3 linked regions of the Homo sapiens genome follow. The protein of the gene in region 1 interacts with the protein of each later gene in a pairwise test. Each region holds a gene or a part of one and is shown in the gene's direction. Other genes may lie near its edges.

The links. Proteins that work in one complex are often made in the same cells at the same time.
Region 2: the proteins of SPDYE4 (region 1) and PPIL1 interact in binary tests that used the Homo sapiens proteins (3 or more experiments, as listed by UniProt).
Region 3: the proteins of SPDYE4 (region 1) and GCK interact in binary tests that used the Homo sapiens proteins (3 or more experiments, as listed by UniProt).

What each region holds. Positions count from the first base shown.
Region 1 is NC_000017.11:8,750,342-8,755,566, reverse strand, and holds the end of SPDYE4 (speedy protein E4), read left to right. Parts: coding exon 1-47; intron 48-2,077; coding exon 2,078-2,246; intron 2,247-2,369; coding exon 2,370-2,429; 3' UTR 2,430-2,473; intron 2,474-3,329; 3' UTR 3,330-4,714; downstream 4,715-5,225.
Region 2 is NC_000006.12:36,864,795-36,871,825, reverse strand, and holds part of PPIL1 (peptidyl-prolyl cis-trans isomerase-like 1), read left to right. Parts: coding exon 1-108; intron 109-7,031. UniProt on the Homo sapiens protein: Involved in pre-mRNA splicing as component of the spliceosome. PPIases accelerate the folding of proteins. Catalyzes the cis-trans isomerization of proline imidic peptide bonds in oligopeptides. Catalyzes prolyl peptide bond isomerization in CDC40/PRP17.
Region 3 is NC_000007.14:44,179,431-44,186,461, reverse strand, and holds part of GCK (hexokinase-4), read left to right. Parts: intron 1-2,308; exon of another isoform or gene 2,309-2,478; intron 2,479-3,001; exon of another isoform or gene 3,002-3,160; intron 3,161-4,312; exon of another isoform or gene 4,313-5,071; intron 5,072-7,031. UniProt on the Homo sapiens protein: Catalyzes the phosphorylation of hexose, such as D-glucose, D-fructose and D-mannose, to hexose 6-phosphate (D-glucose 6-phosphate, D-fructose 6-phosphate and D-mannose 6-phosphate, respectively).

The sequences.
Region 1 (5,225 bases):
GGCCTCTTCTCGTGGCAATACCAACGCATTCATTTCTTCCTGGCTCTGTGAGTAGTTTGCTTCTTCCCATCTGTCAATATCCAACACCCTGGGACAGTGGACGAAGTGGGATTCCAACCTTCCATCTATTTTTTTACCCTACTTCTCCTCTTTACTCTGTATATAAAAACGATAAGATTATACTATGGTGTTCTTAGTCTGTTCTTTCTAAAAACAAACACAAATGCAGTTGACAAATAGTAGAATCAAACAAAAGGAAACATAAACCCGTCCTAAGGGGAAAGGAAAGCCGTGGACACGACCCTGCTCCCCAAGCAAGCAGCCATTTCTGGTTCTCTCGTCTCTCTCCTTCCCATATCAACACCAAATGCAATTTTCCATCCTCCTTCTCCAGGTTCCCATGACAGAGGCAGAAATTCAGGTCGTCCTCGCATAACACAGATCCATCATCAAATACTCCCTGCTGGGCATTCCTGCGAGTCCTGCCCCAAGCCAGGGGGCTTCCTAGTGCTGCCTGAATAGCTTTCCAAAGCACAGCTCCCACCCCCCCTTCACTGCCCACCTGAACAACCTCCTTAGCTGATTTGTCTCTAAACGGAGGCCCGGGTCCACAGGGCTAATTCAACCCTCTCTGCAGTCCTTCTACCACCAAACCTGCCCACCATCTTCATCTTTCCTTGTTTGCTTTCGCCACTCCTTCCAAATGCCCTCCACTCCATTTTGATTTTGTGTTTTCTGTCTGGGTGTCCTGCACACATGTGGATCTGAAGGGAATGACCCATTCCTTAAAGTCAGTTCAACCCCACAGCCTTTGCAATGCCTCCCCTGATCTTCCAGCTTCTGCACGCCCACAGCACTTTAGTGACATCCTAGGATAATGTGACATTTTGGATTCGTTTATCTGCCCTCCTTTTCCCCAAACCCATCAGAGTAGACCCCTGTTGAAGGCAGGGTCTTGTCAAAATATCAAAGTTTTTTGTTTTTATCTTTACCGGACAGAGACTTGCTCTGTCCCTCAGGCTGGAGTGCAGTAGCCAGATCATAGCTCACCGCAGCCTCCATCTCCTAGGCTCTAGTGAAGCTCCCACCTCAGCCTCCTGAGTAGCTGGGACTACAGGTGCATGCCACCACATCTAGCCAGTTTTTATGATTTTTAGTAGAGATGACGTTTTGCTATGTCACCCAGGCTGTTCTGGAACTCCTGGGTTCTCACCTCAGCCTCTCAGAGTGCTGGTATTATAGACATGAGCCACCCAATCAGCCAAAATATCAAAGTATTCCTGAAACACTCAGCACAATTCTTTTCATTTTGCAAGTGCTCATGTTATATTGACTCTATGGAATAATTCATATGGCATTTGCCTATAAGATAAATCTTTCCTTCTTTCCTTCATTCATTCATGTATTCATTTATTCAACAAAACCTTATGAAGTTCATCATATGTGCCAGGGAATAGGAAGGATGGGAAGGGAGAGTTCACAGCAATGCTTGTTGAATTAATGCACCAAGATAAACAAAGCCCTCTAGTGGCCTTTTGGTAGGTGAGAGATGATTTACAGAAACACACCAGTCAGTTCCTGTCCTTGGGGGCACTTATGATGCACGGGGGAAGACAGGTGTGTGCATACATGACAAGGAAGGGGGGTGTGGGAGGAACAGGGATGGGGACTAGGATGAGGTGACGTCATCTGTCTTGTATAAGGATGGCAGGACACATCCTTAGCATAAGACTTGGGTTGTTTTTAAATTCAGAGGGGGTCTTGCCATATTACCCAGACTGGTCCCTAACTCCTGGCCTCCAGTGATCCTCCTGCCTGGACTCCCAAAGTGCTGGGATTCCAAGCAAGAGCCACCACTCCCAGCTACCACTTGGATCATCTCCTTCCTGAAGGTTTGAGAGGCACCCTTAGCAGGTCTCTGTCCAGCGGGGCCTCCTGAGGAAGGCAGGGCTCTCTGCAGGGCGGCTGTTGGTGCTGAGCTGAGGAAGGTCCCCTGCCCTCCTCTCTGAGAGGCTGCCCTCAGGCAGGGGTCCCTCCTGGTGGGGCCCCTGAGCAGCAACCTGATCTCTCTCCCCAGCTACCTGGCCAGTGACATGGAGGAGGACAACCAGGCCCCGAAACAAGACATCTTCTCCTTCCTCTACGGGAAGAACTACTCCCAGCGACCCTTGTTCCATAAGCTTCGATACCAGCTCCTCTGTTCCATGCGCTGGAGGACGTGGGTTTCCCCAGAGGAGATGGAGGAGGTAGGTGGGGCCATATGAGGAGGTGGGGGTGGGGAGGGATGGGGTGGACTGGAGGCTGGAGGAGGGCAGAGAGGGGGCTTCCTGGGGAATCCCTGGCTTCTCAAGTGGTGTGTGTTTTTCCAGATCCAGGCTTATGACCCAGAGCACTGGGTGTGGGCCCGAGATCGCACCCTCATTTCCTAGAGCTCCGGGGACATGGAGGCCTGAGGTCATCGGCCTGAGGGAAGGTACGTGTGTATCCTCCAGGGTAAAGGCAGAATATTCTCATCTATAAGAAAATCCAAGGAACTCAACTGCTTGATCCAGCTTCAAGCCTGGTCAACATGGCGACACCCCGTCTCCACAAAAATACAAAAATTAGCCGGGCGTCCTGGTGGGCGCCTCTAGTCCCCACTACTCAGGAGCCTGAGGCGGAAGGAACACCAGAGCCCCGGAGGTCGGGGCTGCAGTGAGCTGTGATTCTGCCACTGCACTCCAGCCGGGACGACAGAGTGACACTCTTTCTCAAAAATGAGAATACTACCTAGGTCCAGGGAGGTTCATTATGGTTGATACACTTGAGTTACTGATTTGAGGAAAGGATTCAGTGAAGATTTGGTTGACATCTTGTGCAGCTAACCACATTTAGGACCAAGCATTAGACTAAAACATGAGAGATTAAGGTTGGGGATTAGGAATCTGGTCTGCTGGTTCCTGAGGTTGTCGTGTTAGACATGTTTGTAGCATGGTTAAAAGTTTAGATCTTAAGCAATATAAAGGGCCCCAAGTGTGATGAAGTCCAAAGCCACGTCCTCCAAGGGTGCTCTACTCCCTGGGTGGAGCCACCCAAAGTCCTTGCTATGAAGCAGATCACTGGGGCTAACCTTGGGTATATTAAGTGATTTTTGGAGTCAAGCTCACCAAAGTGTGAGTACCAGAATCAAAAATGATGGTTCAGAATCAGGGTTTACAATAAAGGGTTAGAGATAAAATCAGATTTATATATTGCTCTGAACTCTAGTTAGGATTGATGTGGGATGGGAATAACCTTCCTATCTAGAGATCTCCCTCCTTGAAGTGTGACATCCTCTCTCTCACTTCCAGAACACTGGGCCCAGGGGAGATGGGAATTTTCAGCAGGAAGTTTATCGCGACGCTAATGCCAGACACCAGGAAGGGAGAGAGGAGCCTCCTGTGCAGATCATCTAGAAGAAGCTGGACTCTTCTAGAAGGGGCAAAATAGATTGACCAGGTTTTCCTCCTAGGAGCCATGGAGGTATTTCTAGGAGTCAGTGGAGGGAAAGTGAGAAACCAGGGGTGTTTCTGGTTCCACCCCTTCCTGCGGCAAAACCTCCCTTTTCACGTTGCTGAATCCCAGCCTCCCCTGGGCTGGAAGCTGGAGTTCCTGTTTCCTATGGACTTGGTTGCCACAGTCCAGAGCATTTGAAGGCACAGCGCAGGCACTCAGATTGTTACGGAATTCTTTGTAAAATATGAAATTACTGCCATAGGATTTTAAGAGATAGTTTAATAGATACTGTACATTTTGTTGGTTTATTTTTCAAATGTTGGCCATAGAATTATTACTAGGTTGATTTAAAATAGTTTGGGGTTTTTGTAGTTTTGAAAACATGCTGTTCCTATAGAGTTCTCTGACGGTTGTTATATACACATAAATATAATTTAGTTTTCATTTTTAAGAGAGGATTCTTTTTATCGTAAATGTTTTCTCTTTAAATCGTTTTATCTATTATTAAATGTGCTCCTGAAGCGAGCACTCTTGTAATCTATGATACTGACCTAATATATCCATTATATTTATAGCTAGGTGGTAGTTCCCCTACATTCTTGCAAATAGAAATGTTTATTTTCTGTTTACTGTTTGTTACTGAATTGTGAGAATTCAGTTGTGATTTTTAACATGCCTTCCATATATACTAACATGTCCAATATATACTATACATTTTATTTGTTTATTTTGAAAATGATGGGCATGGCATTATTACTACATTTATTTAACTAGTTTAGAAATACAAGTATTTTTTAAAAGACACTGTTCTTATGAAGTTGTGTGATGGGTGTTACACCTGTTATATACACATAGATATAATTCTGTTTTCATTTTTAAGAGAGGATTCTTTTTATCCTAAATGTTTTATTTTTAAATCTTTTTATCTGTTATTACATGTGCTGCTGAAGGGAGCACTGTTATGACCTAGAGTAGTTACATAATATATCTATTCTATTTATAGCTAGGTGGCATTTCCCCGAAATTCTTGTAAAAATAAATTTTTATTTGATGTTGAGTGTTTGTTTGTTATTGAACTGTGAGAATTCAGACGTAATTTTTTAGCTTGTATTGAAAGGTTTGTATGTTACTTTAAAGAGGACATGTGTTTGAAAGGAGGACAGGAGCTGTGTGTTTCAAAGAGGACAGTGCACTGCGCTACCTGGGAAAATGCAATAAAGATGAAGTTTTCTCATCTTCACAACGACTGTGACCATATTGGTCTGGATTGCTTATTTGTTGTCCAATGACATTTTTGTTTAATGCGGTTTTAGTTATTTGAACAAATCTATTAACCCTGGAAAATAATGCTGAATCTTTTTGTTTGTTTGTTTGTTTGTTTTTGAGATGGAGTCTTGCTCTGTCACCCAGGCTGGAGTGCAGTGGCGCAATCTCAGCTCACTGCAAGCTCCACCTCCTGTGTTCACGCCATTCTCCTGCCTCAGCCTCCCAAGTAGCTGGGACTACAGGCACAGGCCACCATGCTCGGCTAATTTTTTGTATTTTTAGCAGAAACGGGGTTTCACCGTGTTAGTCAGGATGGTCTTGATCTCCCGACCTCGTGAGCCATCCGCCTCGGCCTCCCAAAGTGCTGGGATTACAGGCGTAAGCCACCTCCCCTGGCCCTTTATTTTATTTTATTTTATTTATTTATTTATTTATTTGAGACAAGGATCTTGTCCCATTCCCCAGGCTGAAATGCAGTGGCTCAA
Region 2 (7,031 bases), on another chromosome or scaffold:
CCTGTAAGAACTTTGCTGAGTTGGCTCGTCGAGGTTACTACAATGGCACAAAATTCCACAGAATTATCAAAGACTTCATGATCCAAGGAGGTGACCCAACAGGGACAGGTACAGTTAAGCCAACATTAGTTTATGTTTTCTTTTTTTTTTCTCCTTTTCGTCTTTTTTTCTAAAGCCAGCATTAGTTTCTGAAGTCTCTGTCGTAAATAGGTGATAAGGCAGCCAGAGCTCTCTTTTCCACTTACTAAGGTCTGTGTTGGTTGATTCTGGTGACAACGCCTGCCTTCCTCAAACACACATGTGTGGAATTGACCAGAAACCAACCTTTACTCCTAGGCTTGGTAGAGTTTTTCATAACTTACATGTACTGCTCACTAAGAACAAATAATATTTGTCTGAATTATAGTGATGCAAGTAGTCTGATCAATAAGAAGGAAAGACTTTATAATATTTTGAGAATAATAAAATCCTGGGTTCTTTTATCGATTCATTCATTTAACAAATACTGAGTACCTGTTTTGTGTCAGATACTTTTTTAAGCTCTAGGGAGATACCTATAAACAAAGAGACAGAATTATTGCTCTCAATAAAGCAGGAAAAGGGTGTGGGGATGGAATTTTAGTAGAAAAGTCAGGGAACTCCTCTCTGACATTATTGGAGAAGAGATCTGAATGAAGTAAGAAAGTGAACCTTGCAACTGTGGGGAGAACATTTTGGATGGAGGGAAGAGCAAACACAGAGGCCCTGAGGCAGGAACCTGTGCTGGAAATCATAAGATATGATACCTTATAGGGCATGGTAGAGACTGGGTTTTATTCTGAGTAAGATGTGATGTGAGTCATTGGAGAGTTTTGAGCAAAGGAAAGACATGATCTGATCTATGCTTTAAAAGGATCACTCTAGGCTGGGCACGGTGGCTCACGCCTGTAATCCCAGCACTTTGGGAGCCCGAGGCAGTTGGATCATTTGAGGTCAGGAGTTCAAGACCAGCCTGACCAACATGGTGAAACGCTCTGTCTACTAAAATACAAAAATTAGCCGGGCGGGTTGGTGGGCACCTGTAATCTCAGGTTCTTAGTCGGGAGGCTGAGGCAGAAGAATTGCTTGAACCCAGGAGATGGAGGTTGCAGTGAGCCAAGATCGCACCACTGCAGTCCAGCCTGGGTAACAGATTGAGACTCCCTCTCAAATAAATAAATAAATAAAAGGATCACTCTAGCTGCTGTTTAGAGAATAGATGTAGGGGCAAGATGTAAACACTATGTAAATAGTTGTTGTACTGTATTGTTTGGGGAGTAATGACAAGAAAAATAGTTCTATACATGTTCAGTACAGATGCTTCCCCCCAAGATGTTTTCAGTCGCGGTTAGTTGAACCCATGAATGTAGAACCCACATGTAGGGAGGGCCGACTATGCTCATGAGTAAGTAGTTGGATAGGAATATGGGGTTCAGGGAAAGACCTGGTATGGAGGTATTAATTTGGGAGTTACTGGCATTTAGATGGGGTTTATTAGTGAACTGGTGGAACCCTTACTCATTTCAAGGGCCCTTGCTTCTCAGTCTGCTTCTTCTCTGCTAATTTCTGCTCGTTTGCCTTTAAACAAGTTTGGTTTTCTCTATAGCAGAGTCTTTTCTCAGTCTTGTTCTTTTTTGTCATTCTTAATCGTCTCATGATTTATCATCTATGGTCAGAAGCATTCAGGTTTTTGGGTTTTTTTTTTTTTAATGTATATGGATGCATTTCAAAATACAGAATATATAAGAAAGCAGAGAAAAGGGGAAAAATCATTCATAAGCATAGCTCCTAAAGATTTCTAACCATCATTAACTAATCCCTAAATATCCCATCTTTCAGAAAGGAACAGTGTTAACTTTTGGTGCCCATCATGTCTGGTTTAAGGGATGACAGGATAAATGGAAGTAGTTTCAAAAAAATAGGATATATAAGCTATTGTTTTTAAAACAGAACATATTACATTTAATTTCATATATATAGAACAGAATATTTGACTTCCTACAGTGAAAGATGAGGCAATTAGTACTTAAATTTCTACCCATTCTTATTTTTCCCCGACCTTAATTTTTGTTGTTAGTTTTATTATTATCTGTTCTGCACTCATCATTCCTTCAGCTACAGTGTGGGTCCTACGTTTCAGTGTATTTAGTGTTCACAACTTGCTTCGCTTTTACCTTCGCAAGTGCTGGAGGGCAGGATTTCTTGTCTAGTGGTTTTTTAGTGTTTTTTTTTCAGAATGCTCAAGAATCACAATTGTCCAGTGGTTTTTTGTTACAAGAGCTGGAATGTGTTGTATTTTTAAGTTCATTCATGTTTCAGAATTTCTGCCTGTTACTTTTATACTTGAAAAGAGATAGCATGTTGGCATGCTCAGCCCCCTCACTGTGTGATGCACTGTGCCACTTTGGGACTTCACAGAGTCCCCACCAGCAAGAAGGCTCTCACCAAATGTGGCCACTTGACCTTGGACTTCTCAGCCTCCACAACTGTAAGAGATAAATTACTTTTTTAAAATAAATTTTTTAGGCCAGGCATGGTGGCTCACACCTGTAAGCCTAGCACTTTGGAGGCTGAGGCGGGAGGGTCACTTGAGTTCAGGAGTTCAAGACCAGCCTGGGCGACATAGTGAGACCCCGTCTCTACAAAAAATAAAAAATTAGCTGGGCATGGTCGCATATGCCTGTAATCCCAGCTACTGGGAGGCTGAGGTAGGAGGATCACTTGAACCTGGGAGGTTGAGACTGCAGTGAGCCATGATTGTGCCCACTGCACTCCAGCCTGAGCGACACAGTGAGACACTATCTCTAAATAAATAAATTAAAATAAAATAAAAATATTTAAAAGGAAGAAAAAAAGACCATAACTGGGTATAGCATTCTGAGATCTTTTTAGACATTTCTGATCAATTGCCTTCTGGTTTGGTTTTTTGTTGTTGTTTGTTTTTGTTGTTGTTGTTGTTGTTTTTGGAGACAGGATCTTGCTCTGTCACCTAGGCCCAGGCTCGAGTACAGTGATACAATCATGGCTCACTGCAATCTCCATCCCCTGGGCTCAAGCATTTCTCCTACCTCAGCCTCCCGAGTAGCTGAGACTACAGGCATTCACCAGCATGCCTCACTAATTTTTAAATTTTTTATAGAGTTGAGGTCTCACTGTTGCTGAGGCCGGTCTCAAACTCCTGGGCCTAAGTGATCCTCCTGCCTCGGCCTTCCAAAATGTTGGGATTACAGGCATGAGCCATCATGCCTGGCTGCCTTCTCATTTTTGAATATGGTTTTGGAGAATACTGAGGCCAGATTTACTCCTTCCTTTACATCAGGGTTAATTTTTTGATTTCTATTTCTGAATATTTTCTCTGTTATACTTACTGGATTTTCTATTTCAGGAAATATAGTTATTTGTTTCATCACCTTTGCCTTCCATATCTATCATATTTCTTTTGATTGTGTGATAGGATTTTTTTTTCTTTTTTCCCTGCATTCACTAAAATAATCTCAGACCTTTACTCTGTGCCTTACTCAATTTTCAGTCATTTTTATTCTGTTCTTTACTGCTCTAATTTATCTACTAGCTCATTACTGATGCCATTTGAATCTAAATTTGTTTCCTTCACTCTGCAATCTTTTCATCTTATTCTGTGGTGTATTATCTTGTCTTTGAGCTTTTGTTATATTATATTTTTACTTCTCTTGAATCATCCATAGCTTGAGATAGCCATGGAGAAGCCACTTTCTCCCAGGCTGAGTTCCTGGGTTTTCTTTTCCTTTCTCCCCTCCTCCTTTCTGTCCTTCTGTTGGTTGTGGTATGTTTGCCTAGTTTCCATGCCATTTGTTTTCATCTTATCCATGCTTGATGTCAACACCTACATTATCCCCACCTTTTACTTGCTCAGATACAGTGTAAGTGGAGTCTCCTTGTCATTCTCCCCACTTATGTGGAACTGGTTGTCTTCCCCACTTCAAATGTTAGGTTGCTTTCTCTCTATTCTATTCTAGCCTGAAGAGGTGTGGGAGAGAACTGGAGCTCAGCTCATGCTGAGCGAGCCCCTTGTGGGAGGGCTAGCCTCTGTTCTATCTTCCCAGACTCCCTTAAAGTCTTGTCCCAGAGCCCCCTCCACCAGCCAGTGGTGTCCCTCTGTCACCACTCCAGGCTCTGGGTAGTCCCCAAGTATGGCCCAGCACCCTGGAAGGTGGCCAGCCCTGCGTGCCTGCCCTGCCACTCCCGAGCCCCTGTGATATGTGTGGGCTTCTGCCCTCAAGGGCTTTGTTTTCAGAGCTGCTCACCCACTCCCCTGTTGGCTGTTCAGAATCGGAGGGTATTTGTGAGAATCTCAGCATGACATTTCTTTCCTGGTTACTGGTTTCAGGGAATACAGATGGAAGAATTTTCTATTTTTTCCTCTTGGCTGACTCTTTTTACAATTTTAGCATGTTTGGTTCCCTTTTCTTATTTGGTTGATGCTGGTGAACTTTTGACTTTTTAATTTTTAATTTTTGTATGTTCACTTTATTGGGTGTTGGGAGCATGTGGTAAACGTGCCTGATAGCAATAACTGAAACATACCCTTAGAATGACCCTGTATGGCAGACGCATCTGAATGTGTGTTCTGAGCTAGGGAATCCAGGAGTAGCCAACCTGGAGGTTCCTTCCTTGTCTATAAAGGGACATCTGAGCCCCTGGCTCGTCCTGTGAAACATGGGCCGCACACGGGTTGAGGCCCCGAGTTTTGAGTTGAATGAAGATTGCCAGGTGGAGATTGTTAGGGAGAAGGTGCTAAGTGGAAATGCTATATAAACTGCATGCTTTTTGCAAGCCATTGTGGTTCTCCGCCACCATTGGACTCTCTGCCCTGTATGTAAGTCCCCAATAAAACCCCATGTCTCATTTGCTGGCATTAGGTCTCTTCGGTCTATTGAACCTGATGCCATCCCCATTGGAGTCAATAGAGGTTCGGCACAACAGGGAGGCAGAGTCTAGTCCTGCTTCATTCTACTTTCTTTGTCTGAAAGGGTTCCGTCGGTACTTCGATGTACTTCTTTCCTGTCTTCTTCCTCTCTCCCCCTCATGTTGTTATGAAATAAATTTTAATTCTTAATACCAGTGAACTGAGAGTCCATGATTAGGGTACAAGTATTGGAAGTGACTCAGGTGTGAGTTGCTCATGCCACAGCTTTTCTGTATTTCTGTAGTTGGTTCATGATCCTTCATAATGTCACATTTCCATGGTGTAATTTTAATGAAATTGAATCACTCAAAAGATCTTCAAATAACTGCACCCAGCCTCAAGTATAATGAATGACTGAGCAGCCCACTGGCAGGTCTATGGTGGAAGGCAAGCAGGAGTTAGGCTCTCCTGGGTCACTAGTTCATATTTTCTAGCTGATTAGGTGACACGTTTTTTGTTAAACATCTCAGATGGGCAGCAAATGACATCCTGGGCTCTTCAGCAAGTTGATGTACCACTTCCATTCCCAGCTGTCCCTCAGTCTGACTACTGTGGAACCATTCTTTCCACATGCTTTCTTGTAATACATCTTTGCCAGATGCCTTGTCAATTCAAATACCCTTTGACTTCCTGCTTCATTTCATTTTAAACCATTTTTCTACCTTCAACTTTCCCATATTATAATAACTATAGAGGCTCTTTCCTTAGCCCTCTGAGTGTCTTTTATTTGTTTCTACTAACCTTTCTGTCCTCTCTGTAAGACATAACATCCTGTCAAGTTCTTCCTTTAGCTCTTCCTGCTCTGCACTTGGCCTCACAGTGCTCACCAGCTGCTGTGATTAATTATATGCTGATTATCCTGTGCGTCACTCTCACTTTGATTTCATCTCTCCTCTTGGTAGCCCCAGGAACACCTGAAATGTAACGTGTTGAACAGCAAGCTCTGTTAATTTTATTCATTTGATGAGTATTTGCCAAGAGTCTGCTGGGTATCCTGTGCTATTCTAAGGCCTGGGAGAAGCACTTAAGCATTAAAAGCCAAGGCATTTTCTTTTTCCTTGCAGTTCCCTGCCCTGCCAGGAAACAAACTATTCATTATAAGAAACAACTAGAATGGGATAATATAAATATGCAAATGTATGATAGTACGGTGTGGATTATGTATATAATATAGGTTGGAGTAATTCACAATAAGGGAAAAAGCACAATGGAATGAGATTAGGATGGGAAGGAGGCATATGCGAGATGGGTCTTGGGAAGTAGAGGGAAGGGCATTTTGAATTTAGGAAGAAGGGTGGGTACAGGGCAGGAGTGACAGAGGCATGCAGGGGTAGGGAGGGAGCCCGCCACCCCCGGTGTCACATCTTCCACTCTAGACTGGCTCTTGTGACATCACCCAGCCACCTCTCCACACCCAGAACAAATGCATCAAATGTGATTCAAAGGCCCCTGTAAAATTTACAGATCTCGGAACTGCCTGTTTAGGGGACAGTAAGGAGCAGTTTGGGGCCAGTTAATGGAGACTCCTAGACAGAGGAGTTCAGATTTGATTGAGCATGACTCAGGGACCATTTGGGACTCTTGAGTCTGGGATAAGACAAATCTGAGGAAATTTCATCCAGCTGTGGACTATGGCAAGACAGTTTGGTTCAGGGTAGAGCAGGACTGTGGAGCTTGGGCTTGCCTTGTGCTTCACATGAATACTTACTAAATGTAGAGGAGTTGCCTTACCCTGCTGAGCCAGCTCACCTGTCGGGAGTGTGGTTACGTGCACCTCCTAGGCTGGTTGTGAGTAGTAAATGAGCTGATGTTGGTACAGTGGTTAGCATGGGCTTGACACAAAGTGGGAGCTCAAACAAATGTGACTGGTTTTTTTTTTTTATTGTTAATTCATTTAACAAATACCTATTAGACTCCTTCTGTAGGCCAGGCACTCTTCTAAAAGCTGGAGATACAACAGTGAATAAGAAAGCCCTCGCGGTGCTCTCATTCTGGTGAGAGACGGAGAATGAAAAAGTACATAATATACTCTCAGGGATGGCAGATGATATGGAAAAAAGAATGTACT
Region 3 (7,031 bases), on another chromosome or scaffold:
CTCTCTTCCTGACTTGCAGACCGCCACCTTCTTGCTGTGTCCTCACATCGTGGAGAGAGAGTGAAAACAAGCTCTCTGGTGTCTCTTCTTATAAGAATGCTAATCCTATGATGGGGGCTCCCCCTCCTTACCTCATCTAAACCTAATTATCTCCCAAAGGTCTCATCTCCAGATACCATCACACTGGGGTTAGGGCTTTGACATATGAATCTGGGGGGACACAATTCAATCTGTAACACCAGGAGGGCATGCCGGGAGGAACTGACCTTCCTCCCTCCAGCTGCCCTGGACACCTTTGCCCCATTGAAGGAGCAGGCTCAGAAGTGGAATGAGGATGGAATAAGGTGCACTCCATCATGCTTACCCACATCCCTGGCAGGAATTGTCCTGGGCCCCAGCAGGAGAGATGCCCCCCCATACTGCCATGGCACCTGCTCTGAGACAGGTGTGCAGAGTGCAAAGCTCCAGGTGGCCCCCAAGCAGGTGTGCTGGGAGGAGGGGCCCGTGTGGGAGGAGCAGGCAGCGCCAAGGCCTAGCGGAGCAGTGACAGGTCCCTGACTTCAGGGAATGGGCACGCTGTGGGCAGGCAGCTGGTGTGGGGGTGAGGGCTGGGGCTGCATCTGTGGGACCAGGGCTGGGCCATCCATCATATGCCGTGTCACAACCCCAGTGCCCCTGCTGTAGCCAGGACAGGAGGCTGGGCCAGGCTGGGAGGTGACAAGAGTGGGGGCTGTCCCCAGGAGAAGCACTCTGCTGCCTGTGCCCAGGCCTCTGGGGATGAGGACCCCTCAGAAGGAGTAGCTATGTCTAGGAAGCCCCAGGGCAGGAGCAAGCCAAAGGGGACATCATTAGTGAGATCCAGGGGATCAGTGGGCCACAGAAGCCCCAGCGTGAGCCCCTCTGACTGATGCAGCTAGGCCCACACCTGCACCTGCCCACAGCAAGACCCCCAGGAGGAGAGGGGACAGATGGAGAGAGGCACAAAGTGCCCCTGGCCTCTGCCTTGAAGCCACCCCAAGGCAAGAGAGATTTGAGCCCCTGTTTAGTGACCTCCAGGGGAACATTCTGGCCCATCTGATGTGGGAAGCCCCTTGTGGAGTCTGTCATTCCTCAGCTGAGCCAGGCCTTTGGAGGCAGCCCAGGCATGTCCCCTGTGTGCTCCTATCCCTGTGTTGGGACACCTGGCCCAGCCCCTCCTTCTGCCTTTCTCTTCCCTTCCCTTCTCAGGAGTGGACACTTCCTCCTTTAGCCCCCTCACAGCTGTGTGAACTTCTCTGTATCTCTCTCTTTCTGTCTCTTTCTCCCCCTCTCTCTCTGTCTCATTGTCTCTCTGTGTGTCTGTCTGTAGTATTCTCTCTCTGTCTCTGTCACTCTGTCTCTCTCTCTCTCTGTGTCTACCTTTCTGTATTTCGCTTTGTTTCTTTTTCTCTGTGTGTGTGTGTGTGTATCTGTTTTTCTCACTCTCTCTCTGTGTCTATCTTTCTGTATTTCGCTTTGTTTCTTTTTCTGTGTGTGTGTGTGTGTATATCTGTTTTTCTCACTCTCTCAATCTCTCTCTCTCTTTCTGTCTCTCTTTTGCTGGCCTGAGCAAAGAGGGAGCCCCATCCTGATGCTACATAACCGTGAACCAGCACAGACAGAATTGTAGGAAAGTCCTGCAAGTAGAAGGATAGAAGGATGAGGGAAGAAACGCCATGTGAGTCATGACAGATCCCTTTCCAGGAGCCACTGACTCACCCTGCCTCCTGCCCTCCCACTGTGACACTATTACTCACAGACAGGCCCGGATTAAACCTATGTTCCAGGTGCCCTGTGGTTCCCACAGTGTGGCTCCCTGGGTCTGGCCTCAGGCTCCACAGGTGCCCAGCCCTGCCAAAGTCTCCAGAGCAGCTGTCCAGCTGGGGAGCTGCGGGGCCCCTTCACAGAGCGCATGGGAAGAAGTTCCATCCTACACATTACATCGAGAGGGACGTGCCTGAGAAGGGGAGCTGGAGCCCGTGCAGCCCCCTGCTTGCGTGCAGAACATAGTGTACCCTGAGCATGCCATGAAAAACACAAACGCACAAAGTTGTAAAGAAAAAAGAAATGACAGGTGGCTGTAAAATCAGTTATAGCCCACGAGAGGCCCACTAATGAGTGGTGATTTCAGCTGATTACAAAGAAATGATGGTGTTTCTGTAATGAACTAAACATGCACTCGTGCGTGCACACACGCGCACGTATAGTCACATAACTGACCAGCCCTATGCATCACTTGTTAATTACTTAGTAACTGTAACAATAATAGTTTCCAATAAGTGAGCCTTAGTCTCTGCGCAAGGGTCAGTTTATTGAGCACACGGGGGCCTTGCAGTGGGGGCAGGTGATCTGCTCCTGGGAGCCGCCAGCCTCTCCTCTCCTGCTCTTCATCTTCCTCCGTGGTGGGAAATTGTCTCACTGCTTCTACACCTGAGGCTGAACATCTCCCTTTATTTCAGTCTGAAACACATGTAAAAATATACTGGAATGAATTAAGGTTGCAATTATTGATATCAGGCAGTGAGTACATCAGGGTTTATTATACTATCTCCTTTACTTACTTCGAAGTTCTCTATTACCAAAAAATTAAAAACTATAAAAGAAAGAAAAAGGAAATGAGGCTAGATTCAACACAGATTACTCTTACCAAACCCTTCGTAGTCCCAGGAGTCCCCTAACACAAGCACTTGTGACCTGGAGTGATATTCACAGCATTCCTTACCTGGCAATACCTGAGTATTAGCCCCCCCAGTGGGATCTTTGTTGTAGACAACCAGCAACTATCAGCCCAGCCAATAAACAAGTAGGAAAGGGGAGTGCTGGAGAGGCCAAGAAGTGGGATTTTCCATGCTCCTGGGCTGTGATCCAGAGGGCACGGCTGTGAGGCTGATCTCAATGAACACTCTGTCTTGGAAGTACAGGGATCCTCTGCTACCTGAAAACGTTCTGAGTATTCACTTTCATGGATTGCAAAGTCATTTACCCAAAATTCACTCTCCAAATGAAAAGTGAGTATGATGAATCAGTATTCAAGTTCCACCTGGGTCCTGGGAGAGGGCATGGACATCATATCCCAGCTGTTCCGACAGGAGGACCCAATCTGAGTCTCACTGCCTGCCTGCATCGTTTGTCTGCTGCCAGCCTGCACAGTAGGAAGGGAAAACATGATTTGTATCTGTTTTAGGTCAGGTTCCCAAGAAGTAGAGCCTGAGATTGGAATTCTTGGAAAATGGTGTTTGCGGGAGCGCTGTCAGCAGAAGCTATAAGGAAGTTGGGGGGACAGAAAACGAGAGGTAAGAAGCCAGTCAAAAAGGCAGGTCCAGCTTAAGTCCGCCTCAGTCTGGTTCCACAAGGGCTCTGATGCATGAAGAATATCACAGGGTTGTCCCTCCTGGGAGAGGGGCCAGCCTATTGTACCTGTATCAAAGCCACCAGCTGAGGGCCAGTGGGGAGGGAAGATCTTCCAGGCATTTCCAGGAAACTCTCAGGAGAAGGGTGTAGCTGTGAGCAGTCTGCAGCTGCTGCTCACTGCGGCTAAAGGCTGGGTGTGCAGGCCAGTCAGCCAGTGAGGTGCCAACAGCAGGCACTACAGTCCACCCCTTGACTGCTCAGACCTACTGCTTTCCACTTTAAGCTCTCTCCATCCAGGCACAGCTTCAGGGAAAACTTACAATTGGAGAAACAGAGGGATGAACTACAATGCCCACTTCTGCATGTGATTGTAAGACTGTCACTGATACTCACCATCATGCCCCATCCCCACCATCCATTCTAGTGTCCCCTTCCCCTTGGCTAACACTGCTGGTCTAGGTGACTTCCCTAGAGCAGGAGCCAAACCCTTATCCCTGAGGCATCTGAATCCTGGATTCCTTTATCAGGCTATTGTTGTTGTAAGTTGTCCATTCCCAATTACAACTGGACATGAGACTACCAAGAAACACCCTGGCAAATCATCTGAGTGCAAGCCATATTCTTCCTGCTCCATTATGTAGCGGTAGTCCTACCTCCTAATGACAAGGGTAAATTGCCACATTTTGCTCCTTGTGCCAGGATGGTAATACCTTTCTCTACCTGCTTGGCTACTGGCACAAGGAAGCACAGCATGACCAGGAGGCAATTGTAGCTGTACATTTAGTGAATGTGTTAATGTATCACCTGGTGGAAGGACCCCCTCTGAGAACCAGGACTTCTAGACCCACAAAACCTAAAGTTGTGAATGGCGGAAGCACAAATTTCCCAAGTGGATCATGGAGAGTGATGAAGAGTTCTTGGTTCCCAAACCCACATATTTTACCTTTCAGGAACATGGCCTCATCCCATAGCCATTAGAGTGCATATTGCATTCTGGAGGAGACTGGGCCCTCCTCATGGGTGTCATCTTCAAGATGACAGCTCCACTGTGCCTCCAAGAGGATGCTCCACCACCCTATCTGTGATTCCTTGGTTAGCAGGACAGGCTGCTGCACTGAGGGTAGGAAAGGCAAGTCCATTGATGGCTGGAATACATGTCAATCCAAGTCAAGAGAAAATGCCGCCCTTTCCAGGTTGGAAGGGGCCCGATTTAGCCAACTTGTCACCCAGTAGTGGCTGGTTGGTCTCCTCCAGGAGCAGTGTTATACCAGGAATTCAGCACCAGTCGCTATTGCTGGCAGTTCTTACATTCAACAGCAGCAAAACTAGGTCAGCCTTGATGAGAGGGAATGTATGCTTCTGGGCACAGGCATGGCTTCCTTCTCTGACTCCATGACTATCTATTTCTGAGTGCATGGTGGCCGACATTCAGCTGCCTGCCCATCCTATCCACTTGGTTATTATTGCCTCTTCCACAAGAAGTGGTTTCTGGCTGTCATTAATGTCTCATACTTTGTGCCCACTCACACAGGTTTAGCTCTACAACTTTTCCCCATGCCACCACTTTTCCACAATCTTCTAATGTTGCTCCTTCCAAGCTACTGAAGAACGAGCTAAGCTATTCACCAATGTCCATGAGTCTATATTTACCTTAGGCCACATCTCTCTCCACACAAAGTGAATAAGCAGGTGCACCCTCCAAAACTCTACTAAGAGGATTTCTTCTCCCCAGTGTCTTTCAGGGCCACCTTGAGTGGGGCTGAAGTACAGCAGAAGTCCATTTCCAGCTTGCATCAACATTCCAAACTAACCTATCCATGATCAATGCATAGATGGGTTTTTCCCTCCTCCAGCAGCTAGACAAAAGACACCCCCCACCAGGAGGCCATATTTGCATGTGGGTGAAAGAGAGGCACAGGGGCCAATATTCGTGCAACAGTGGTAGATGGCAGGTGGGTCTGGGCCACCTGTCCCTGCAGCTTATCTGTGCCATCTGGACCTGCTCAAGCCTGATTCCAGATATACCATTTCCATCTTATGATGGATGGCTTATGACCTAGTGGGTCTGACAGCACCAAACTCATAATGGGCAGTTATGGCCACATGGTCACTTAATGTCCTATGGTCAGACACTCTGCTGAGTGGCATGCCAGGAAATGCTTTACAAGTGGTGTTTGGTTCTCTGCTGCAGATGGCATGACCTTGGTCCGGAGCCCTAGGGGTTTGGACAGTGACTCCTGTTGGGGCCTAATCTCACATTCCATGCAGAGTATCATCAGATTTGCCAATCACATAGCCTAAGGGTCAGGACTGATCCAACCAGTTTTTGCAGAGATCAAACTGGAGAATGAAAGGTTGATATGATGTGACCATCATATCACGTTTTTCTCTCTTGAAAAGTATGCAGATGTCTGAAAGAGACAAGTGCCCCAGGAGAAAATGCATGCCTTCCTCAGGATCGGCCCCCACCTCCCCTCCTGGCCACAAGGAGGGTCAAATCTCAGCATGGCCCAACTTGGACCTGTCAAGGAAGAAGAAAAAAATTGTATGCCAAAGGAACTCAGTCTTTGGCTAACAAGTACTAGACATCCTTTAAGTCTTTGAGAATGGTAATAATTTCTGCCATCCCTCCAGATTTGTGTTTTTCTGTTTTGGCTGGGTGGGAATGCAGCATTTTCACTTTGCCTTTGTTATTACAAATGTTGCTTATTCTATAAATCAAGGAACCATTGTAAGGGCTCTTCTGATGGTTAAGTATATCCATTCCAATGATTTATTCGGGATCCAAGGAAATGATTTCTGGGTGAATACACAGAACTAGTGGATCCAATTTGAGACATACCTGGGCCAGAACTATATTTGTCGTCTTACCCCAATAAGCCTGCACTCTACTAGGACAGCCATGACAGCACTTTGGGACCCTAGATATAAGTGTGAATTGCTGGCTGGGCATGGTGGCTCACGCCTGTAATCCCAGCATTTTGGGAGGCTGAGGCAGGTAGATCACCTGAGGTCAGGAGTTGAAGACCAGCCTGGCCAACACGGTGAAACCCCATCTCTACTAAAAAATACAAAAATTAGCTGGGCGTGGTGGTGGGTGCCTGTAATCCCAGCTACTCGGGAGGCTGAGGCAGGGAGAATTGCTTGAACCCAGGAGGCGGAGGTTGCAGTGAGCCAAAATCACACCACTGCACTCCAGCCTGGGTGACAGAGCGAGATTCCATCTCAAAAAAAGAAAAAAAAAAGTGTGAATTGCTATGAAATCACTATCAAAAGATCTGAGTGTTACCCTTACTCAGTGTGGTCGAATATAAATAGCCATAGGTTCCTGTTATACACACTTGCTGTGGTGCTACAGAGTCTTTCCTCATGGGAACCCAGTCCCTCTTTCAGTCAATGGGTTCTGGTTCGAGAACTGGCTGAGGTTTGGAAACTGTGCCTTTCCATCATAACTTTCCACTGGGGTGACTGACCTTGGCCTTCTGTTCATCCTTTCTAGCCCCTAAGAATCCAACACTCTATTAGCCTTCTCCTTAGACCCCTATAAGCTAATCCCTTCTAGTTGTTAGTCTGACCTTGGTGCCCAATATGATAATTATTCCCACTTTGCTTCTGATATGCTTCTAAGTGCTGCCCCTGGTCTCTGCCCTTAAGTGATCTAT